Homo sapiens: one gene and its partners. The protein of the gene in region 1 purifies or fractionates together with the protein of each later gene. This does not show direct contact. Each region holds a gene or a part of one and is shown in the gene's direction. Other genes may lie near its edges.

Region 1 (5,679 bases):
CTTTCTATTCTCAGGGAAGCTGCAGCCTTGAGGGACCAGGGAAGAGGTGGCATGATTCAAGGCAGGGACCACAATGTGGTTGGCTTCCTCAAAGCAAAGGCCTGAGTCAGCCAGGCTCAGGCGACACCCTGCATTGGCACCCGCTCAGTGTTGTCTTGTTGAGCAGCCTGAAGAATACAGATGAGCCACCTGCCCATGTGGGCTCTATCCTCACTTGCTTGACGGTGCCCACTTCCTTGGCGAGGTCTTCCCAGCAGAGGCTTTCTAAGTGGGACCTCTGGGTTGAGTCTTTCTATGAGCTAGCACCATGGAATAGATGGGGGCGAGGAACGGTGCAGCAGCAGGGTTCCAGGTAGAGGAGACAGCAGCAGATAGGGCATAGAGGAGGTGGGGGACAAGGTGGGAAGCAGGCAGGGATGCAGATGCAGTTGTACACATGGGCAGGTGCAAGATCATGGGAAGTCTTATGTCCTGTGAGATGTAGTTTGGACTATACCCTACGACAAGCTTGTCCAACCCATGGCCCGCGGGTCACATGTGGCCCAGGATGGCTTTGAATGCAGCCCAACACAAATTCGTAAACTTTCTTAAAACATTATGAATTTTTTTGCATGTTTTAAGCTCATCAGCTATCGTTAGTGATAGTGTATTTTATGTGCGGCCCAAGACAATTCTTCTTCCAATGTGGCCCAGGGAAGCCAAAAGACTGGGCACCCCTACCCTATGAGAAACAAGCTATTGCAGACTTTTAGACGAAAGAAGGGATCACACTTTTTCTCTTGAAGTTGTATAAGAGATATATTTGAGTTGAGTCTTACTGGAGTTGGAGTGTGTGTGCTGTCCAGGCGAGACGAGAGCATCCACTGAGGAAGAAATAAGAATGGAAGAGATGGGCTTGGGAAAAGTTTAAGATTGTCAGGGCTGTGTGACTGATGGACTCAGGCTCATACTGAGGACTCACCATGTGCCGGGCACTGGTCTAAAAACTCTTGATATACATCTTAATGGATCCTCATACTGCCGTGAGGTAAAAAATACTATCCTCATGAACAGATGAAACAAGGAAGCTTTCAGTGGTTTCGTAAACAGATAGATGGTGTGCAGTTTGTAAGCTGCAGAGGCAGGATTCAATTCCTGGTCTGTTTCACTCAAAAGCCTTGATCTTAACCACCATGCAGGACCGCCTCCCCGTAGCTGGGATTGGGGAGGTGGAGGGGTCTAGGATCACTTTCAGGTTTCTTGCATAGGTAACCAGGGAAACTGAGTTGACAAAACAGGAAGAGAAACAAGTTATGGGGAGGATGGATTCCATTTTGGACTGTGGTTTGTGCTGTCAGAAAGTGCCAGTTTAGGGGGCTCTACATGAGGAACACCAATCTTTCTCTCTGCGGCCTTACTCCCTCCTCCTGAGCTATACTGAGGGTGTTGGAGCACTCAGCTTTCTGTGTTCTGACTCCCCTTTTCTGCTGCCCAGCAAAGGTAAAAAGGCTCTCCTAAGAGGAGGCCCCAAATCTGGAAGACACCTTGCAGACTAACAAGGCTGAGTGACCTGTGGAAGTCAAGGGCAAGAGCTAGCAGTTTCCAGGGAGCTGGCTCTTTGATTCTGATGAAAGGGAAGATGTTGATGAAAAAGATAGGAGCGTGGCCCTTTCCCCAGCATGGCAAACCACTCAGAGATCAACCAACAGTACGAAACGGATCATGCCAGGCTCTGGCATCCACAGCTTTTCATGTTCAGGTTATGCTTTCAAATCCAAACTGCCAAGTTTGAGGCTTCAGAGTCAGCATGCAGAGATTTCCAGTAGTGCTCAAACTCTGACAGGGCCTGAGGTCACAGGTGAAGGCTGTGGGTGTGACAGGAGTAAGGCTGATAGGGACCGTGGGGAGTCCACATGGAGGTCTTTGATTCTCAGCCCAGCACTTTGGTGGGAGGCCCCTGAGTACATGCCCTCCTGGGCTCCCGTGAGTGGGATGACAAAGTGGCGAATGCTCTGTTCTCTGAGGGTCAGGAATAAGAAGCACTTTGTTCCTCAGAAACATAACAGTGCTTTCCTACTCACCTTGCCACGAGAGCACAGGCTATGGAACAGAGAAAACATCAAAGAAAGCCCAGGCACTTAGGAACTTTTGGCAAGGAGATTGGAAGTAAGTGTTCCAATGACACTGTAGAGGAGGAGACCAGATAGTAATGCCTCTTTCCTCCCACCCATCCAACCCTCTTAGCACAGGGGCTCATCAAACTCGGGGACATTCCCTCCTCCCAGACTGATTTTTACCTAGAAACCTTTCTAGCCTCTCCTCATCTCTTGACTGTCTTGGCCTTGGCAAGAAGAATACACGTCCCTACCCAGCTATCTTCAGCTCCTGTCCTTCCTCCCAGCTGCCAGAGAATTGTCAGGTCAGCCTGCTCCTTCTTTCTTCTCTGCATTTTTTACTAGCAGGAGTGCCAGGGGCCCAAGGACTCTTGGGAAGAGTCTCTCACCCAAGGACCAGTTAGAGCTCTTATTCTGCAAATGTAGCTCACGGACTCTGCAGAGGCTGAGATTCTGTGGTGGACCAGGGGAGCAGGGCTGGCTGAAGGTGGCTGGTTGTCTGGGTGGCCTTGGGCAAGCATCTCCTCTTTCTGGGTCATGAGAACTTGGTTATGGGTGAGATGATCTCTAAAGTACTGTTGGGTTGGGAATGCTGGAGGCTCTGGGATGTGGCAGACAGCCACTTCAGGCCCACTGCTGCCCCCAACCACCTTAACTCTACCAGCAGGAGGAATGGCACCAGCTGTGACCCGGCTCCTTTTCCTCCAGCTTGTTCTGGGGCCAACTCTGGTCATGGACATCAAGATGCAGATTGGCAGCAGGAACTTCTATACCTTAAGCATTGACTATCCCAGGGTTAACTACCCAAAGGGTTTCCGGGGCTATTGTAATGGTCTGATGTCCTATATGCGAGGCAAGATGCAAAATTCAGATTGCCCAAAGATCCATTATGTGATACATGCCCCTTGGAAGGCCATCCAGAAGTTCTGCAAGTATAGTGACAGCTTCTGTGAGAATTACAATGAATACTGCACACTCACCCAGGATTCCCTCCCCATCACGGTCTGCTCCCTGAGCCACCAACAGCCACCCACTAGCTGCTACTACAATAGCACCCTAACCAACCAGAAGCTCTACCTACTCTGCTCCCGCAAGTATGAAGCTGATCCAATAGGTATCGCTGGTCTCTATTCGGGAATTTAATTCCTGAGCCACTCCCCAACCTCTACCACCACAGGCCAGCTGTCTCCATTTCCAACACTCTGATCCCTGTAACAAGACTTCCTTCCTGACTTACGAGGCAGGCAGGGTCCCCTCCCAAGAGACCAGGTGGGTGCGAAAATGTCCAGGGCTTTGATCACCATGCAAAGTGGTGCTATCTTCTAGGTTCTTTCCAGCTTGTTTACCCCCTCTTCGCCCCCACCTCCTCATCATCCTTCCTCTCCCAGAGACAGTAAAACCCACCCAAGAAGTTGACTGTGTCCAGTTGGCAGTGACTGTCCACCCACTGGGCCAGATCCTAAGTCCTGGATGGAGGCCCAGGGCCTCAGCTCACACCATGGCAACAGGCACCAGCTCCGAGTCTCACCTCCCCATCCCCACCAGCCTTCTCATGTCAGCCTCCCCCAGTTCCCTTATAATTCCCTCCACTCACCCACCTACTCAGGGGATATGGCTAGCTATAGGAACCTCCCTGAGGCCCTCAGACTCATGTTAGCCTCACTTCCCCACAACCCCCAGTTTCCAGCCTGCTTCTCTCTGTGAAATCATGGTTTCTCCCTTCATATAACTGTCCTCTCCTGCTTCCTCTTACCATGGAGCCTAGGACTGTCTCCCCCACACTCCCAACAACCGTAGTCACCCTGCCTTCCTTTTTCCAACCTCTTTTTCTTCCAGTCTTCTTACCTTGGCTCACTGGCATTTCAAGGTATCTTCTCTCACCCATTCCCCAGAGGTTCCTGCTTCCCTTCTCTTCCAGAAGCTCCTCCCAAATCCCCCAGACTCCAGAGTCTGCCCCTGACCAGGCAGCGAATGAGGCAGGCCCGGCTCTAATCGAACATAAATTTCTAAAACCACATCTGAGTATGTAAGATGTAACCATTGGGGGAAACTGGGTGAAGGGCACACGAGCCCCCTCTGTACCATTTTTTGTAACTTCCTGTCAACCCATAATCAATTCAAAATAAAAAGTTAATAACACACATCTGACTCTGTTGTGATTTAATTGCTTTTTCTTCAGTGCACCAGAACTCCTGCTCTTGGAATCCTGGCAGCCTGCCTCATCTGGCCATCTTCCTGAGCTACCCTTAGCAGTCAGTAAGCTCTTCTGTCCCATGTGCCCCATGATGGAGGTGATGTGGGGTAAAACTTAGTTCTGGGCTGGGTGTTGAAAATAGACTCTCCCCTTACCCCAGCTCTGGAACAAATTTGTAATAGAAGTCAGGCAACCTTAGCTGGCTTCTACTCCTCCACCCAAAAAACCTGAATTGCAACAGATGAGGAAGGTGGAGGGACAGGGAAGGATCTAATATGTGATATAGTCATAGTCCATCACGTGAGGAATTGCTACACCCTTTTGAGGGGTGGGGGTGGAGAGGTGGATATCAGTAATGTGTGAACACAAGTAGTAGATACTTTTACCTCCACATCTGGTTCATCTCTTTACTCCAAATATATTCTTCCATCCTGTTCTTGGAAGCAGCTGTTGAGGAGGAATGCTAACTGATGGCTGGTAGGCATAAGGCTAAGCAGAGCGAAGGGTGTGTGGTGGAGAACCCACCCTCCTGTGCTGCCTCTTCTCCCTCTCTCTACACTAGTAGGCTCATCTGTCCCTCACAGACAGAGATTTTGGCTGCTGCACACACAGATGTTTATTGTTTTCCAAGCTCCCTGGTGTTAAACATGCAGGGTCAGGGGGCTAGCAGGCTGAGATGAAGCTCCTCTCTACTTGGTCTTCTTATCGTAGGTGCCAGAACCCTTGTAACCACTCACATAGCCTGTGTTGTCAGTCATCTCTTCCCGTCCCGCAATGCCCTTGCCCTTGCCACTCTCATCAAAGCGCTCCTTGTGGGTGCCGGTGTACTTGCTGGTGTCTGTCAAACGGTCCACTGCACCCACTGTTGTTGCTTTCTGCAAGCCAGGGATGGATTTGAGCTCTCTTCCTTTCCTTACGCTGTCATATCCCTTCCCCAAAGATGGCCCGAGATACTTAGAACAAGTGCTTGGAGCTCTTGCTCTGCCACTGGCATGGGGTGCTGCTTTCTTAGGGCCCAGATACAGCTGTGGGCAGGTACTCTGGTAAGAGCCGTTCACTCATGGGGGAGGAGGAGTGTGGTGTGGGAATGAGTGTGGCGTGTGCAGAGGGAGGGTAGGTTTTTTGTTTCCAGAGGAGTTATTCTGACTAGGCTGCTGCCTGAGGACTTCACTCCCACTCCCCGACTCAATATCCACTGTAGAAAGAGCTTTTAGTTCAGACAGGACAATTAAAAAAGGGAGTAGGTGAGAGGCAGGAGGCCTGAGATTAAACCCTAAATAAGAATTGGAAGAGGAGTGGGCATCAGGTACCAAATTCTCTACACTAATGTCCTCCAAAAGCTACCAAGCCCTAATTGCCTGGCTCAGATACTAGACACTTGGAAATTAGTCT
Region 2 (5,295 bases), on another chromosome or scaffold:
TTAACATCCAAGAGGAAATAGAAAAGATGCATTTTGCTTGCCAGTTTCCTGAGCTGATTGAGAGCATTGACCTCCAGGAGGATAAGTGATTACACTATGACCCTCTGCCTAGGGAATCCAGTCTACAAAAAAGAACTCAATGAGTAGAAAGAGGTTGTCCTAATTGTCCTAAAAGTTGCTTCTTCTAAGAGTTAGTTTACTTCTTGGTTGTCTCAAAACTCACCCTGTTGTGGCAAAAGACCAACGGTTTTCATCTGTGGGTACTTCTTAGGACCTTCAGGGGAGAGTCGGCCTGGCAGCCCTGGGCCCCCTGGCTCTCCTGGACCAAGAGGCCCACCAGGTCATCTGGGGGTTCCTGGACCCCAAGGTCCTTCTGGCCAGCCTGGATATTGTGACCCCTCATCATGTTCTGCCTATGGTGTGAGAGGTAAGTGTCACAAAAAGCCCCGCTTGTGGGCTTTGATCAATGTTTTAGTATGCTTAGTACCAAAATGGGAAGATAGTGCTATGAAAAAAGTTAAATTGGTTATGAATGGGAAGCAGAGCTTGAATGCCTCACTTCCTTAAATTATCCCGAGACATTTTCTATAAAGTGCAAATTGCTATAGAGGCTACTCCCTTAAAAACCTTAAGAGCAAATTCAAAATAACAGCACATCTAAGTCTTCCTTGCTTCCCAGTGATGACCTACATAGACTTGGCCTCTGACTTTGTATTTAGCACATTTGGAGGACATGGTTGAACATTCTTTTGGAGTCTCCATTCTTATGTGACAGCTGTGATGTGGCCAAGACGTCCCATAAAATTTTACTCTTGGTTTGGGGAAATGTCAAACTTAGAACTTCTCCCGTAATTAAGAGGGCTCCTTAGATTATTTTCAATGAAATCATGCATACCACTTGCATTTAGGTGCATTTAAGCACCACATTTTAGGTGACCAAGAATAGTTGTGAGAGGAAACAAAAATCATGCTGTCCTTGTCTTATCACTAGCTACTGGACTAAAAGAATATGCTTCCTAAAACATCTGCAGTGTGCATGCTGGCGTGCTGTGCAATGGCCCCTTTTCTGACATAGTCACTCTTGGAAGCATCAAGGGAGAGGCTGAGGGACTGCTGTGGGGCCATGAACTTACTAGTTAATGGGTTTAAAATTTTCTGCTTCAGTAGAAATTTAACCTTAGTTATCACAGGAATTGGTCAACAAAGTTTTGCTGATGTGTTTTTCTCTGTTCATCTTTTCCCTCCCTGTTCTCTCAAATACTCCTATCCTTATTAAGATCTGATCCCCTACAATGATTACCAGCACTGAAGTGGAAATCCTCCACTCTGGTTCCATTGGCCCCAGACATTTAGCTGTGGATACAGAACTGTCCTGTCAACCACCACCACCACCAAGCCCCTGCCCCTAACAATGGACACTCTGCTTCCCTGCTTCTTCTGCATCCCTGCCTTCCCACTTTCAAACCTCTTGCCCACTCTGCTCCAAACATGATGGAGTGATAACATCGGAACTTAACCAAATCATATATGTCTATTTTAATAGACACTGACTGCTCCATGTCAGCCTGGATAGAGGTATATGATCGTGTGCCAAGAATTTATCCCAGACTCCCCTGTGTGACAGCTTCATAATAAAGTTACTTAACTGTGCCTCTTCCTCCTTCCTCTCCCCACACAGGATGGATGGGCATCTTTCTCCTTGACCACCCTACTCTCCCTTCCTCCCCTGATCACCTCCCCTCCCTGCTCTTCCCTGGTGATGGACTTCTAACATGAGATTTTTTAAAAAAATTTCTATTTCTTTTATAATTTTGCTGAGTTTTCAGGGTTTCTTCTGTAAATAAAACATAATATTTAAATGGTTGGTTATGATTCTAGTTTTCTAACAATTTCTGTAATGTATCTTTCCCTTCGTCTATTTACTAACTGTCTGAAACCTTATGGGGAAGGTACAAGGGGCGTGGTGGATTAAGACATCCACTGCTTTTTACCCAGCAGGATATCTCTGTGTCTCTAAGGACCCAGGTGAGGGGAGAATATCAATTTATGATTCCTGGGTGCAGCAAGTCCCCACCCCCACTTTTCCTCTTTAGCTCCCCATCCAGATCAGCCAGAGTTCACCCCTGTCCAAGATGAGCTGGAAGCCATGGAACTGTGGGGCCCTGGAGTCTGATAGCCTCAGGAGAAATTTGAAGACCAACTGCAAGAACTCTTAAGGAATCTTGTTTGAGAAAATGTTGTTATGTGGTTTGTATGCTACTTTTGGGGGGCAGGGCTCATTTCAGCAGCCTAAATCTCCTCCTTGGATAATGTTAATATTATTATTATTATTAACAAAAAATATATATTTTTAAAAAGTTCCCTTAATCTATGACATGGTAGCAATGATTTCCCTTTGGTGTCTTAATGGCATGTCAGATAATTTGTTTTTCCAGAGAAGAGAGCTCAAAGAGGAATTGGGAAAAATAAATTGAACTCTGGAATCTTCTCTCTCAAGTCCTAAAATGAACAAACAGATATGATTGTGTTTGAGGGAAATATGTCCCTAGCAGGAAAAGAATTCAAAGAGGTTCAAAGAATATGTCACTTACTCCTACTTGCTGTAGGAATAACCTTGCTGATAAGAAAAAAAGGGACAATATTGGAGAAACTACCTCTTGTTTAATTGATCTGTCCAACTCTGAGATCACTTGGTAACTGGTTTCATGTGTATCCAAAAATCAGCATTTGGATTTAAGCTTTCTGAATTTGGTAGTTTAAGAAACAGATTTAGTTTTTCAGTGGTTTTAACTCATGTGAAATAATGATTTTCCACCAGCTCTGATGCAAAGAGATATAATTTTAATGAACGATTTATCCAGCAGTGTGTTCCAGGGGTTGCCTCTCCTTATCTACGGGGATTACTTTGTACATGCAGATAAGTTTTCGCAAACCTATTTCCATTTTCTTTTGTAAGCAAATAAAACTTTAAAACAATGTATGTGGATTCTTTTTCCTGCATTTCTAAGTATCACCTTAAGCTTTTGTAGTCTTAACTGAGTGTCCACCAGAAAGACAACAGTTGTCTTCCTTTAGGTAAGCATTCAAACTTTCATTCATTCGTTTACTCACTCACTCATTCATTCATTCTGAGTGCAGTAGAAAACAGAAGAAGCAGTTAACTTGGGACTAAGAGATTAGCGACATTTTATTGTTCATTTATAATCTAGCAGGCAGCAAAGACCCTGCAAATGCATGACCTCTGCTAAATAAATGTTTATCAATAGTTGACTGAGGAGCCCACCTATCTTCTGATATTGAGGAAAGCCTAAAAACCCCTAGAAGGCAGAGCAGAAATGAGGTTGAATCTAATAGACTCTAACCCTTAAACCATACTTTGTCTTTTGCTCACAAAGGAAAAATCTAGGTATTTGAGAAAGATTTGAATTCTATTATGTGCTAGTTGAAATAGAAACAAAAGAGAACCATAAATTTAATACGTGCTCCTTCTCTGTAACATCTCCCTAGTAACAGCTAACTTTAGAAAGTAGGGATGGGATCATTTACAACTAGAAGCTGGATTCTTTCTGGATCAGGAAAAGGCTAACACGAAGGATGGTGTCTGTCTGATCACCAGGTTCTCTTTCTGTCCTTCTCATAATCTCCTGATCTTTGGAGATGAAAGATCTCCTTTCATCTTCATCTGAAGGATTCTTCAGATGATTCATCTTCAGACTTCATCTGAAGGATTCAAACAATCTACTTGTGTGCCTTTGGTGGGGTGGGGCAGGGGCGGGGGGCGGTTCTAAACAAATCAGTTTTTTTGGTGTCTTTGCAGGGAATGAAAGAAGATAATGAGCAGATAATCAGCAGCCATTTCCTTTCAGTTATGGTATATGATTCTGCCTGAGAAAGCAGGATTTATGGGAAGGAAAACTTGTCTAAGGCTCATCAAGATGGCCTGACCCAGAGTCACCTAAGAGAACTCTTCCAACTTAAATGACTAGGGTGTGTAATCAGTTGCTTCTTATTCTGTGTCTCAGATTTCCTAGTCCATGACATTTAATAGTGAGTATAGAGTAGGATATTCTATACATTTTAGTATTTGGCCCTTGGAAACAAAGTTAAATACCATGTCACTCAGAAGACTCTCAAAGTTTGTGTATAAATGGCGAAGTATACACTATGAGAGATTCTAATCCATTCACATCATTCTTGAGTTGTGCAAATACACTTGGCTTTGATTTCACTTGGTGATCTAAATTTGTTTATTTAAGCTGCAAGAAAGTTACATTAATTTGGAATGTGTCATCACTTGGACCCAGTATATCAGATTTTTATTGAGTAAAATGTTAAAAATAATAAGTGTAACTCAGATTCTGGATGTTCGAGTTTACAATACATTGCCTGTAATAAAAGCTGATTCTGAAGTGCATTTTTCTTGACTTACTTTGGCAGAAATATACTTATATCTTAATTTATAGTTTGTAAGTTTATACTGTTTTCTAAAAGTAATAAATCATTTCATGAAAAATACATTACTCTTCAGAATTCTCATCACATTTGTTACAAACTCTCCATTTCTTTTGGGAATAGTCATTTTAGGGTAGTATTTTATATTCCAAAAGACCCCAATTTAATTTTAGAACAACTCTTCCTCTTTTTTTTTTAATTTTTTTACCTCTTCTGCCCCACCCCATCTTTCCATATCAAATATTACTGTGAACCAGGGAGTGTTTTCGTTCTGGGGATAAAACCATCACCAAAAGAGATGTGGGCTCTGTCCTCTTGGGGCATCCTTTCTGTTGCTGGAAAAAGACAGGAAACGTGAACACATAAGCAAAATTAATTATCAGACAACATCAGATGCGTTCAGGGTGGTATGGCCATAGAAAAATTAATTATCAATCATGATGAATATGAAAGACACAGATAAGGTCCTAAGACAGGAATAAGAAAGGAGGAATAAAGGAACATCTGCTTCCATTTGGGTGGGAGGGGCCCTCTCTGAGGGGCTGACGTTTAAGTAGGGACATGAAGATAAAAGGTGTGGGAGATGAATTCAAGCCCACGGTTTGTCAAGTACAAGGGCCCTTTGTCAGCAAGGTAGGTGCCGTGTTCAGGGAATTGTAAGCAGACCAGTTGGCAGGAGAGTGAGTGGAAGAGTGAACAAAATAAGGCTGAAGACCAAAGCAAGGGGGACTGTATGTGAGAAGTTAGTGATTTGCATTTTATTTTATTAATAAATTTCATTAGAAGCAACTGAGGAGTTGCGAACAGAGGAATGACATGATCAAGTGTCTGTTTTAAGTAAGT
Region 3 (5,295 bases), about 38 Mb from region 1:
CCATCACACCCAGCTAAATCTGTGTTTGTGTGAGTGTGTGTGTGTGTTTATATAGAGACAGGATGTCACTATGTTGCCCAGGATGGCCTCAAACTCCTGGCCTCAAGTGATTCTCCCAGCTCGGCCTCCCAAAGTGTTGGGATTACAGGTGTGAGCCACCACACCTAGCAGTTACTAAATTTAATAATACATACATACTAATATAGTTTATAGTTCCTTAAATGTGTAGAAATATATTTATAGAATTCTGCAAATTTTAAATGCATGTGTGTGGTCATTCTGTTAAACTTGAAAATAATAAATGTAAAATATAGTGTACAGAATAGATTTAAGCCTTTTTCTTATTTCATAGAGAACATTAATTCCTATTATTTTTTTCCTACATTGCTAAGAAGTTACTCAAATAACTACTTAAATAACTCTAGTTTTTACTTGGGAAAGCTAATTTGATAAAATCAGTTTAGATAATAATTCTAGGATATTCTTTCACTTCTAGCACGAGTGAAGCACATTTTACCTTGAAATTGGGACCTATAAATAAAACACATGTACAGTATTTGAATGTTTAGTACGTGAGAATTTAGTATGTGAGAATTTATTAGTAGTAAAAAGTAACTTGTGTAAGATAGTGTCTAATGTACGAATAATTATCATTTTCTGAAGCTTTATTTTAAAATAATTTATAACTTAAAATGAGAATATACACTGTATCAGTATTCTAAATTATTTTTCTGGTACTGCCAGTACCAATATGTGCAATTATATTATGATAGCAACTTTTGAAGCTCTGAATTTACATCAGTTTTCTGTTCCATTAAGCAGGACAGCTAATAGTCTGAGTTAACAATTTGGCACAAAATAATTTCTCCTAATTTTTCATGAATTCAAGAGAAAAAGTCATGGATATCTTAATAAAAGGTGTAATTTTGTACTTCTCATTTGAGTTTGAACTCAACAAGATGGCAAGGGGTGGACTTTGAGGGAGGAAGGATTCTGAGAAAAATGAGGACAAGTTCTGTTATTGATGTATCAGACAGTACAATTAATTACTCTGTGAACTGTTGACTATTCACACTGCTGAAGCAGATTTAGGAAAAGGCCATGGGGATGGAGAGTTAAAGTTAATATAAATTCATCTTAATTCATTCACTCTTTTAACAAACATTTACCACAAACATACTGTATATATGTTAGACATTCTGCTAGATCCTGGAGACTCGAAGAAAGAACAAACCCCACCTTTGAGGAGCTAGCTCCAGTTGGGGAAGCGAGCATACCTGTGAACAGTGTTATGTTGGAATGTGCTATAGTGGAGGTGGGGCGTATCACTTTAAGAGGATGGAGAACAAAGATTCAATCTGCAGGCCGCTTTAACTTGGTTTCAGATGGACTCTTTGGATGTTAAGAACCCAAAGCTGTTCCATTGCTTTAAATGACATGTAACTGGAAGTAGAAAGTACTAATTGTAAGCATATACAAGGGAAGTCAGATTATAGCAATCTCAGTCATACTGTAAATGTTTGCAGAAATCCAGGAAAAGTTAAAGAACTAGACTTCCAAGAACAAGTAGCTTTGCATATTTGGGCCTGAATCTACCATTGAGTGACTTAGCTACCCTGCCAGTGCCTGCTTCTTTGTGTGCATATCTGCTGCTTTTTGATGAATCAACTGACTTCATCGTCTACAATAAATCTTTTTTTCCTCCAATTGTTTCTCTTGCCTAATAGTTTCTGCATTCTTACAGAATGTTATATCCTCTCACAGCCTTTGTCTCTATCATTGGTGTTAACTTCAGCTCTAGATACTCAGAGCCTGATTTTCCCACATTATCCTCCTTAAGCTCCTGAGAATAAGACTATGATTGCCTTAGCTCATCCTGTTTGAGCAGCCATCGCCAGCCTGTGGATTGACCATCCTGGGGTCAGTGCTGCAAAGACTATGTGTATTTGGGGTGGGAGGGGTGTATAAAATAGGACTGCTTTTTTAGCAAAGGCTATATGCAGGACAGCTTCCTTAGAAGGGACTCAAAGTATGATAAGAATTATAAATTGCAGTAAAACTATGTTTCTTCATCTAGACAAAGACATAATTTCTAGCAATTAGTATACGTTGCCCAAAAAGGTATTTTAAAAATGATAAGGATTAAAAAGTTATGTCTAAGAATGACCCATCTGCATTATTTATAAATTTGAATCAAAATATTTATTTTGCATGTGATCTTTTTTTGTTACTTGCAGTTTAAAATTAATCATCCTGATAGTGAAGACCTTGCCTTTTTATATGGAACTATATTAACAGATGGAAAAGATGCTTATACCAAGGAACCAACCACCAACATTTGTGTTTTTGCAGATGAACAGGTATTAAAACTGTAATGTTTAGGGACAAAAGCCAGGTAATATGGAACACACTATGAACATTCTGTCTTCATTTATTCTGAAACAGGTTGACAGAAGTCCCACTGGCTCAGGAGTGACAGCCCGAATTGCCTTACAGTATCACAAAGGGCTTCTGGAACTGAACCAGATGAGAGCCTTCAAAAGCAGTGCAACTGGCTCAGTATTCACAGGGAAAGCTGTGAGGGTAAGTGGCACCCTTAGCTTCTTATTTATAAATGTGTCACTCATGAGACTGGAGAGGCCTGAGTTGGGTGTTTGATAAATTTCTTCACTCAGCTCTCAGAAGAGAATTTTAAAGCAGGCCTGTAAAAACTTCTTTTCAACTAGGACATTGGTTATCCAGTGTGGTCTTGGGGCCCCAGCGGGCCCCTAAGGTCCTTTCCATGGGTTCAGAGGGTCAAAACTGTGTTCATAATAATGACATTATTTGCTTTTCACTCTCATTCTCTCAAGAGTGTACAGTGGGGTTCTTCAGAGGCTACGATGTGATATGTGATAACCCAACCAATTGAATGCAGAAGCTAGATATGAGAACCTAGTTGTCTTCTGTTAAGCCAGACATGAAACAGGTTTGCAAAAATATCAAACAATGCCACTTTTCTCATAATTTTTTTTGTTTTGGCAAACAGTTATTTTCACAAAAATGTGTTATTCATATGTTAATGTATAATGGGTTATTTTTAAAATGAAGTAATGAACAGATATATCCAATTCCTAATACAGTAAATATTGATAGATATAACTTATATAAAGAAAAACTCTTTGGGGTCCTCAAATCTTAAGGTATAAAAGGGTCCTAAGACCAAAAGGTTTGAGAACCATTAGGATTTGGGGTTTTTTTTTGTTTTTTTGTTTTATTTTATAATAGTGTTTTATTTGATATAATAGGATGTGAAAGCCCTGAAAAGTTGTGGAACATCAAATTTTTGTAATGGAATAAAATTTTAAATGTGCTAACAGCTAAGTAATGAATCTTATCTCAGTAGTAAATGAAATCTACTACAGAATGATCTACATTCAGTAAATTATTCTACTCATAAAGAGTCCTTTAACATAGCAAACAATCTATCCTAATATAGCTGTTTTTAAGATTTGGTGTTTCTGAATATTAGAGTTTCCTTAAGGATCTCTACATCATATAGTGATCTGAAACATGTGAAACCATTTATGTTGTATGCAAAAATTTGGAACATACTGTCTTCAAAATCTGAAATGGAACATAAAAATAACAACATACATTTATTGGATACTTCACTGTGCATCAGTTTCCAAGCTAAGCACTTGATACATGCCATCTCATTTAATCCTCACAAGAATCCTACAAGGTCAGTACTGTGCTGTTATTATCGTTTTTCAATAGATGATAAAACGGAGAATTGGAGAAGTTAGGTAATTTACCAGAGGTTAGTTAGTGAGTAGCAGATCCAGGTCATGAAGGTGGGTCTCTGAACAGACCACATGCTGTTAAGCATTATATTATATTGCTGTCAGACAAAGCAAAAGGTCAATGAGGCTTTATATTATAGGAGCTGTTATGAGAAGAATCTGGGATTGCAATGTCCCCCCAAATAGAGAGGGAGCCGAGAGACCAAAGAATGACTCAGACAAGTCCAGGTTGGCAAGTAGATGCATTTATTAGAACTTCCATATAAGGCACTCCTGGGAAGCAGCTGAACAACTGTGGAGACCCATCCTGCCTCCTGACTCTAAGCTGCTTTTAAGCTAATTTTCTGGCTCTTTGCCTACTGTGTATGTGTGATAGGACTGTTTTCCTTGGTATGTTCCCAGATATTCTCTGGGATATTTGGGTTCTCAGGGATACCTGCTTCTTGGCTGGGCACCATGCCCTTGGCTTACCCCCCAGCCTTCAGGGTTCAAGCAGTGGACATACACCCTTACATAACCTGGTGAAGGACCTGTCACACTACAGCAGCTTTATAAAAAGATATAAAAAGATAAAGTATTATACCCTAACAATATTTGACATTTTACCTTTAGCTTCAGTTATTATTCTTTTAAAAATTAGAACATAAAAAGATATGCTGAAGTTAATGTTTCCAGTTACTTGTTTTATAGTTATTGATCATGCTTGCCAGAATGTCTTCACTTGCATCATGCTCTCTCCCTGTCTGTGTGGGCCCGTCCAGGCTCCCTGATGGTACCTTCTCAGTTTCTTCCCCTGCTGCAGCTTCCTTTCCCTGTCCTTCCATTTAGATGTTACCGTCACTTCATCCCCACCTTCCTTCTCATCTCTTCTACAGTTTGATGCTGCTGGGCAATTTCATCCACTTCCTAGGCTTCAGTTCTCAACCATCTACTGATGATGACTCCCAAATGTTTATCCCTGCCCTGACTACCTACCCTGTATGTCTTTCTGAATATAACGCTCTTAATCCCAACTGTTTATTATACTCATCTCTAAATGACTGTCCCAGAGGTGTCTCAAACTCACCTTGTTAAAAAGTTCTTCCTTTCTTCCTTTCTCAAATGTGCTCTTCCTTTCTCTCCCCATTGTGTTTAATGGCATCACTAGCATCATTTCCAAGCTAGAAACTATGGTTATAATTAACTTATTGCTAGTCCTCAATTCCCACATGCATTGATCAAGAGGCCTATCAGTTCTACCTCCAAACTATCTCTATGTTAGTATATATTCCCCTTCTCCATCTTCACTGAAAACTCCCATAGTGACTCTGGAATCAATCATTCAGTGAATTGAGGTTATCTCTTAACATGTTTCTGGGTCTCTTGTCTCTCTCTTCTCCAGTTTGATCCCCACTTTACAGCTACAGTTATCTAAAACACAAGTCTGACCATGTCATTCTCCTTAAAAACCTTCCCTGGCCCATAGGATTAACCCTTGGCCTTTCCTTCACATGATAAAAGTCAAGAGTAC
Region 4 (5,295 bases), on another chromosome or scaffold:
ACAGGCACCCACCACCACGCCTGGCTAATTTTTTTGCATTTTTAGTAGAGATGGGGTTTCACCATCTTGGCCAGGCTGGTCTTGAACTCCTGACCTCGTGATCCACCAGCCTCGGCCTCCCAAAGTGCTGGGATTACAGGCATGAGCCACCGTGCCCATCCAGGATCACCGTTTATTAAAGACATTTTTGTTGGGTTTAGTTTAAAAAATTATAGTAGGAGTATGTTTTTAATGTAACTTTTTTCTTTTTAAAATTTTCTCTTTTTAGTGTTTTGCCATCCCATAATGTATTTTTTTTTAATTTATTTATTTTGAGACAGAGTCTTGCTGTCTTGCTGTGTTGTCCAGGCTGGAGTGCAGTGATGCGATCTCGGCTCACTGCAACCTCCACTTCCTGGGTTCAAGCAGTTCTCCTGCCTCAGCCTCCAAAGTAGCTGGGAGTACAGGTGCCTGCCACCATGCCCAGCTGATTTTTGTATTTTTAGTAGAGACAGGGTTTCACTATGTTGGCCAGGCTGGTCTTGCACTCCTGACCTCGTGATCCACCCGCCTCGGCCTCCCAAAGTGCTGGGATTACAGGCGTGAGCCACCGCTCCCAGCCCAATGTAATTTTTTAAAATGTTAGATTGCTAATTGCTAATGTATGCTATTGAAAGTAGTATTTTTATTGTGTTCTGACAATATCAAGTTGATACATAAAAAGACTATGTTTATAATTATTCAGGTATACATATGGGAAGCCAGTGAAAGGAGACGTAACGCTTACATTTTTACCTTTATCCTTTTGGGGAAAGAAGAAAAATATTACAAAAACATTTAAGGTAACTTTTGCAGACACTTTATAACTTGTGATGGGTAAAATATGTGTATTTTTCTAGAAATAAGATTTAGTACTGAATTAACAAAAAGTTAAGTGTAAGAAAATCAAGAGCTTTCCAGCATTGAACAAATGAGAATTTATGCAATTATAGCGATTAAAATGGTACCAGAGCTATCATATTGTTGTGACTTAGTTTGAGTTTTATTTCTAAAATTTGAATTGCTAAAATGGTAAATAATACTGAACTTTTAAACAAAACAGATAAATGGATCTGCAAACTTCTCTTTTAATGATGAAGAGATGAAAAATGTAATGGATTCTTCAAATGGACTTTCTGAATACCTGGATCTATCTTCCCCTGGACCAGTAGAAATTTTAACCACAGTGACAGAATCAGTTACAGGTTTGTAGACTTTAAAGTGGAGGTAAAACTATTCATGTGACACTGCTTTATCATCTTTCTTATTATAACTGGCACTTTCATTTGGGAGCATCATTGACTTTCTAAAGATGCTATTTAATGTTGAAATTGTTATGACTGTTAGTCTAAGTTGCAGGATGATTTTATAAGGGGGACCTTATTTTCTATGAAAGTCACTACTTCAACCACATGTGATAGCTCTTCTTAATTTTTTTTTCCATTTCTACTCTTTCCCCCTGAAAACTACATGGAAAGGCTTACATTTTCAGCTGGTAACCTTCTTCTTTTTAAAATCACTGAAATCTCAGCTGTTCCTAGACAGTTTTCACTTTTAATAAGAAAATAAAGTTGAGTTTCTTGGACCTTTCTGTTACTATTTCAACAACTTTAGCCAATCCCTGAAAGAGCAAAAGACTATTCTTTCATTGGCCTTAATTTGCTGCTGTTGTACATGTCACTGCGGTAGAATGGCAGCAATGGTGCTTAGAGGGGATCCATAGAGAACATAATAGAACTGTGTGGTGCTTGTAGTGTCAAAGTCAATATGGGAATGAGGCTTATGTGCCCTGATATTTTTAACCCTTTTTGCAATAGGTTAGATGGAGAGATTTGGTGGATAGAAGCTTTGGGTGAAACATTACTTTTGCTTTCTAAATTGTGCAATTTCCAAAAAAGGTATTTCAAGAAATGTAAGCACTAATGTGTTCTTCAAGCAACATGATTACATCATTGAGTTTTTTGATTATACTACTGTCTTGAAGCCATCTCTCAACTTCACAGCCACTGTAAGTTGGTATATTTATTTCCAGTCCATAGCAGTAAGTTCAGCTTAATGAAATAGAATGGGAAATAATATTTTCAATGCTTTTCTAAAAATTTAAGCCAAAAAGTATATAACTTTGTCTCTTTAGACATGTGGGGCATGTAGATTTGTTTCCAAATGACCTTTGTCTATTTTTTCTAAAAAAGTAGTTTTCAACAACAGTAAAAATATTTTTTGAAAATGTATTTTTTTTTACAAGCAATTTAAGTTAGATGTGGATTGCTACACTGAAGCTTTTATTAATTAATTGAAATAATTACATGGTAGTCAAAAATTTCAATTTCAATTTGGTTTTTATAATGATTAATTGTAGTTCTAACAAAGATGTTACATTAAAAAATTATCAACAAATCTCATTTTTTGGAGATAATGTTGAATTAACACATTAATTGTGTGAATGTTGACAATGAGCAAGGCATGGTGTTGGGCAGGGCTATAGAGCCAAGAAGGGCTCAGTCCCTACCCTCAGGTTCACAGTTTTTGTGATGGTGACAGGAAAATATATACTTAACTATAACTCATGGCAGATTAAGATTAGTGTTACAAATTAATTTCTGTAGGGATTTAAAGCAGGGGTTGCCAAACTTTTTCTGCAAAGGGCTAGAGAGTAAATATTTTCAGCTTTGTGGCCATGTGGTCTTTGTCACAGCTACTCAGCCCTGCCATTGTAGTGTGAAAGCAGCCATAGCCAATTTATAAATAAGTGAGAGTGGAATGTGTTCCAGTAAAACTTTGTTTACAAACATACTGGATTGGCCTATCAGCTTGCAGTAGTTGGCTGATCTCTGATTTAAAGAAAGGAGGAGTCAGGCCTGGCGTGGTGGCTCATGCCTGTAATCCCAGCACTTTGGGAGGCCGAGGCAGGCGGATCACCTGAGGTTAGGAGTTCGAGACCAGCCTGACCAACATGGAGAAACCCCATCTCCACTAAAAACACAAAAAATTAGGCGGGCGTGGTGGCACATGCCTGTAATTCCAACTACTCGGGAGGCTGAGGCAGAAGAATCGCTTGAACCCGGGAGGCGGAGGTTGTGGTGAGTGGAGATTGCGCCATTGCACTCCAGCCTGGGCAACAAAAGTGGAACTCCATTTCAAAAAAAAAAAAAAAAACAACTAAAACGACAAAGAAAGAATGGAGGGGTCACTTGTTGAATGGGTCGGTAGACGTTTCAGGTAGTTTCTGATTTCAATGATCTTAATTTAGGCAGTTTGAAAAGGTCAGTTTAAAAAATTGAGGCTGCAAATGGTAATTTCTGAATGAGTAGAGTGAAACCATGGGCGTTCAGAGGGGGAGAGTTGGCTGTGGGATAGGCATGGGGGTTACTATGGGATGCTTTATGGAAGAGGATGGTCTAAACTGTTTTTTAAAAGATTAGTTGTGTTTTAAATGCTTGGGCATGGGAGTGGGAGGTGGGGAGCAAGATAAGAAGTGAGACAAGAAGGAGAGGTCTGGCTGGCAATTTCGGGGTGCACTCAGGTAGTGTTTGAGGGAGACTGCTCAGGCTGTGTGCAGGAGGATGGCTGTAGCCCAGGAGTGAGGGGATGGGCAGCCTTGTGGTGGTAGCTGTGGGAGTGGAGAGGATGGAAGAGAGAAGCATAGGACTTTGGTGTTCATTGGATTTGGGGGGTGGGGAGAGGGAGGGAAAATTCAGAAATGTAAAGTCTTGCAAAATCCTGATGTTAGCGAAAATAGGAAAATGACATGGTTGCTCATTTTAGATATGTGAATTCAAGGTGTCCAGGATATCCAAGTAGAAATTTCCTGCAGGTAACTGGAGGTGTTGGGCATGAACTCCAGAGAAGGGCAAGGATGGGAATTTTGGCTTTAGGGTACAATCACAGAGATGACAAGCTAAGCAATAGGATTGCTGAGACCTTGGAGGAAGGGAGAAGAACAGATGTCCAAAATTCCCACATTTAGGGAGAGGAAAGAGGAACTGAAAAGGACACTGAGAGGATGCAGAAAGAGAGGTAGGAAGTGAAGGGGGTTATTTTGGAGCCGCGGAAGTTAAGGGAATCCATAATATTAACAAGGGAGTAATCAGTGATGTTGGATGCCTCCTAGAGAGAGGCCACTGAATCTGGATATTATAGTGCTACCAATAATTTTTGAGAGTTCAATTTCATGAGAATACTACAGACGGAAACTGTATTTAATCGTACTTAAATCCTTTGTGTTTTTAAGATGTTTTGTTTTGACCATTAGGTGAAGGTAACTCGTGCTGATGGCAACCAACTGACTCTTGAAGAAAGAAGAAATAATGTAGTCATAACAGTGACACAGAGAAACTATACTGAGTACTGGAGCGGATCTAACAGTGGAAATCAGAAAATGGAAGCTGTTCAGAAAATAAATTATACTGTCCCCCAAAGTGGAACTTTTAAGATTGAATTCCCAATCCTGGAGGATTCCAGTGAGCTACAGTTGAAGGTGCCGTCTGTTTCCCATCATTGTGTCACTGCAACAACACCATTACAGTTGTAATCTTGTGGTAGGCACTCAACCTGTCAGAACTGAAAGTACATAGGAAGTGGACACATGTTTCTGTTTCACAAAATGGAGGAGAGTGGTAAAAGTAATTTAATGACAGTGGCTGAAGGTTAGACTAAATTTTTCCTTGTAAGTTCATTTTGAAGAGCACAGTAAAATATAGCAATGTGAAGATATGATGGAGAATTTCCTCAAATCCCCAGTCTAGTGTTTGAGGTCAGTCATTTGAAATTTTATTTTGGCAGGAATTGAAATGAAAGATAAATATATATACATATATATATATACACACATATATATGTATATGTATATGTGTGTGTGTATATATATATATATATATTCCTTTCCTGTGTTTTAAAGCTATCAGTTTCTTTACAGTATAAGCTATAAAATGATGAAAATCCAATGTCTGGTGAATGTATTTTTCTTGCATTAAAAAAAAGTGAAGATGAATTTGGTCTTTAATAATTGTTCAGCAGGTAACATCTTTTCTCAAGGTGTTACTAAAGATGAACATTTACAGCTCCTTTTTCTTTTATTATAGGCCTATTTCCTTGGTAGTAAAAGTAGCATGGCAGTTCATAGTCTGTTTAAGTCTCCTAGTAAGACATACATCCAACTAAAAACAAGAGATGAAAATATAAAGGTAATGCTTACAATTCACTTGAGAATTACAATATAATTGGACTATCTTGCTTTTGATATGTACATATTAATTAAGGTTTTTTTCTAGGTGGGAT

The links.
Region 2: the proteins of RNASE13 (region 1) and COL14A1 purify together in Homo sapiens (affinity purification with mass spectrometry; 3 studies listed by BioGRID and IntAct, with this or other methods). This does not show direct contact.
Region 3: the proteins of RNASE13 (region 1) and L3HYPDH purify together in Homo sapiens (affinity purification with mass spectrometry; one large-scale study listed by BioGRID and IntAct). This does not show direct contact.
Region 4: the proteins of RNASE13 (region 1) and CD109 purify together in Homo sapiens (affinity purification with mass spectrometry, with the first as the bait; one large-scale study listed by BioGRID). This does not show direct contact.

What each region holds. Positions count from the first base shown.
Region 1 is NC_000014.9:21,031,375-21,037,053, reverse strand, and holds RNASE13 (probable inactive ribonuclease-like protein 13 precursor), read left to right. Parts: upstream 1-2,246; 5' UTR 2,247-2,398; intron 2,399-2,757; 5' UTR 2,758-2,765; coding exon 2,766-3,236; 3' UTR 3,237-4,236; downstream 4,237-5,679. Other genes in the region: TPPP2 (tubulin polymerization-promoting protein family member 2), read right to left, coding at 4,977-5,162. UniProt on the Homo sapiens protein: Does not exhibit any ribonuclease activity.
Region 2 is NC_000008.11:120,369,059-120,374,353, forward strand, and holds the end of COL14A1 (collagen alpha-1(XIV) chain isoform 1 precursor), read left to right. Parts: intron 1-271; coding exon 272-427; intron 428-1,277; coding exon of another isoform or gene 1,278-1,309; exon of another isoform or gene 1,310-1,678; coding exon of another isoform or gene 1,679-1,776; exon of another isoform or gene 1,777-2,093; coding exon 2,094-2,173; 3' UTR 2,174-4,515; downstream 4,516-5,295. UniProt on the Homo sapiens protein: Plays an adhesive role by integrating collagen bundles. It is probably associated with the surface of interstitial collagen fibrils via COL1.
Region 3 is NC_000014.9:59,473,157-59,478,451, reverse strand, and holds part of L3HYPDH (trans-3-hydroxy-L-proline dehydratase), read left to right. Parts: intron 1-2,237; coding exon 2,238-2,360; intron 2,361-2,445; coding exon 2,446-2,583; coding exon of another isoform or gene 2,584-2,658; exon of another isoform or gene 2,659-2,852; coding exon of another isoform or gene 2,853-2,888; exon of another isoform or gene 2,889-3,925; coding exon of another isoform or gene 3,926-3,937; exon of another isoform or gene 3,938-5,295. UniProt on the Homo sapiens protein: Catalyzes the dehydration of trans-3-hydroxy-L-proline to Delta(1)-pyrroline-2-carboxylate (Pyr2C). May be required to degrade trans-3-hydroxy-L-proline from the diet and originating from the degradation of proteins such as collagen-IV that contain it.
Region 4 is NC_000006.12:73,761,660-73,766,954, forward strand, and holds part of CD109 (CD109 antigen isoform 1 preproprotein), read left to right. Parts: intron 1-724; coding exon 725-821; intron 822-1,081; coding exon 1,082-1,223; intron 1,224-1,916; coding exon 1,917-2,026; intron 2,027-4,270; coding exon 4,271-4,495; intron 4,496-5,099; coding exon 5,100-5,201; intron 5,202-5,288; coding exon 5,289-5,295. UniProt on the Homo sapiens protein: Modulates negatively TGFB1 signaling in keratinocytes.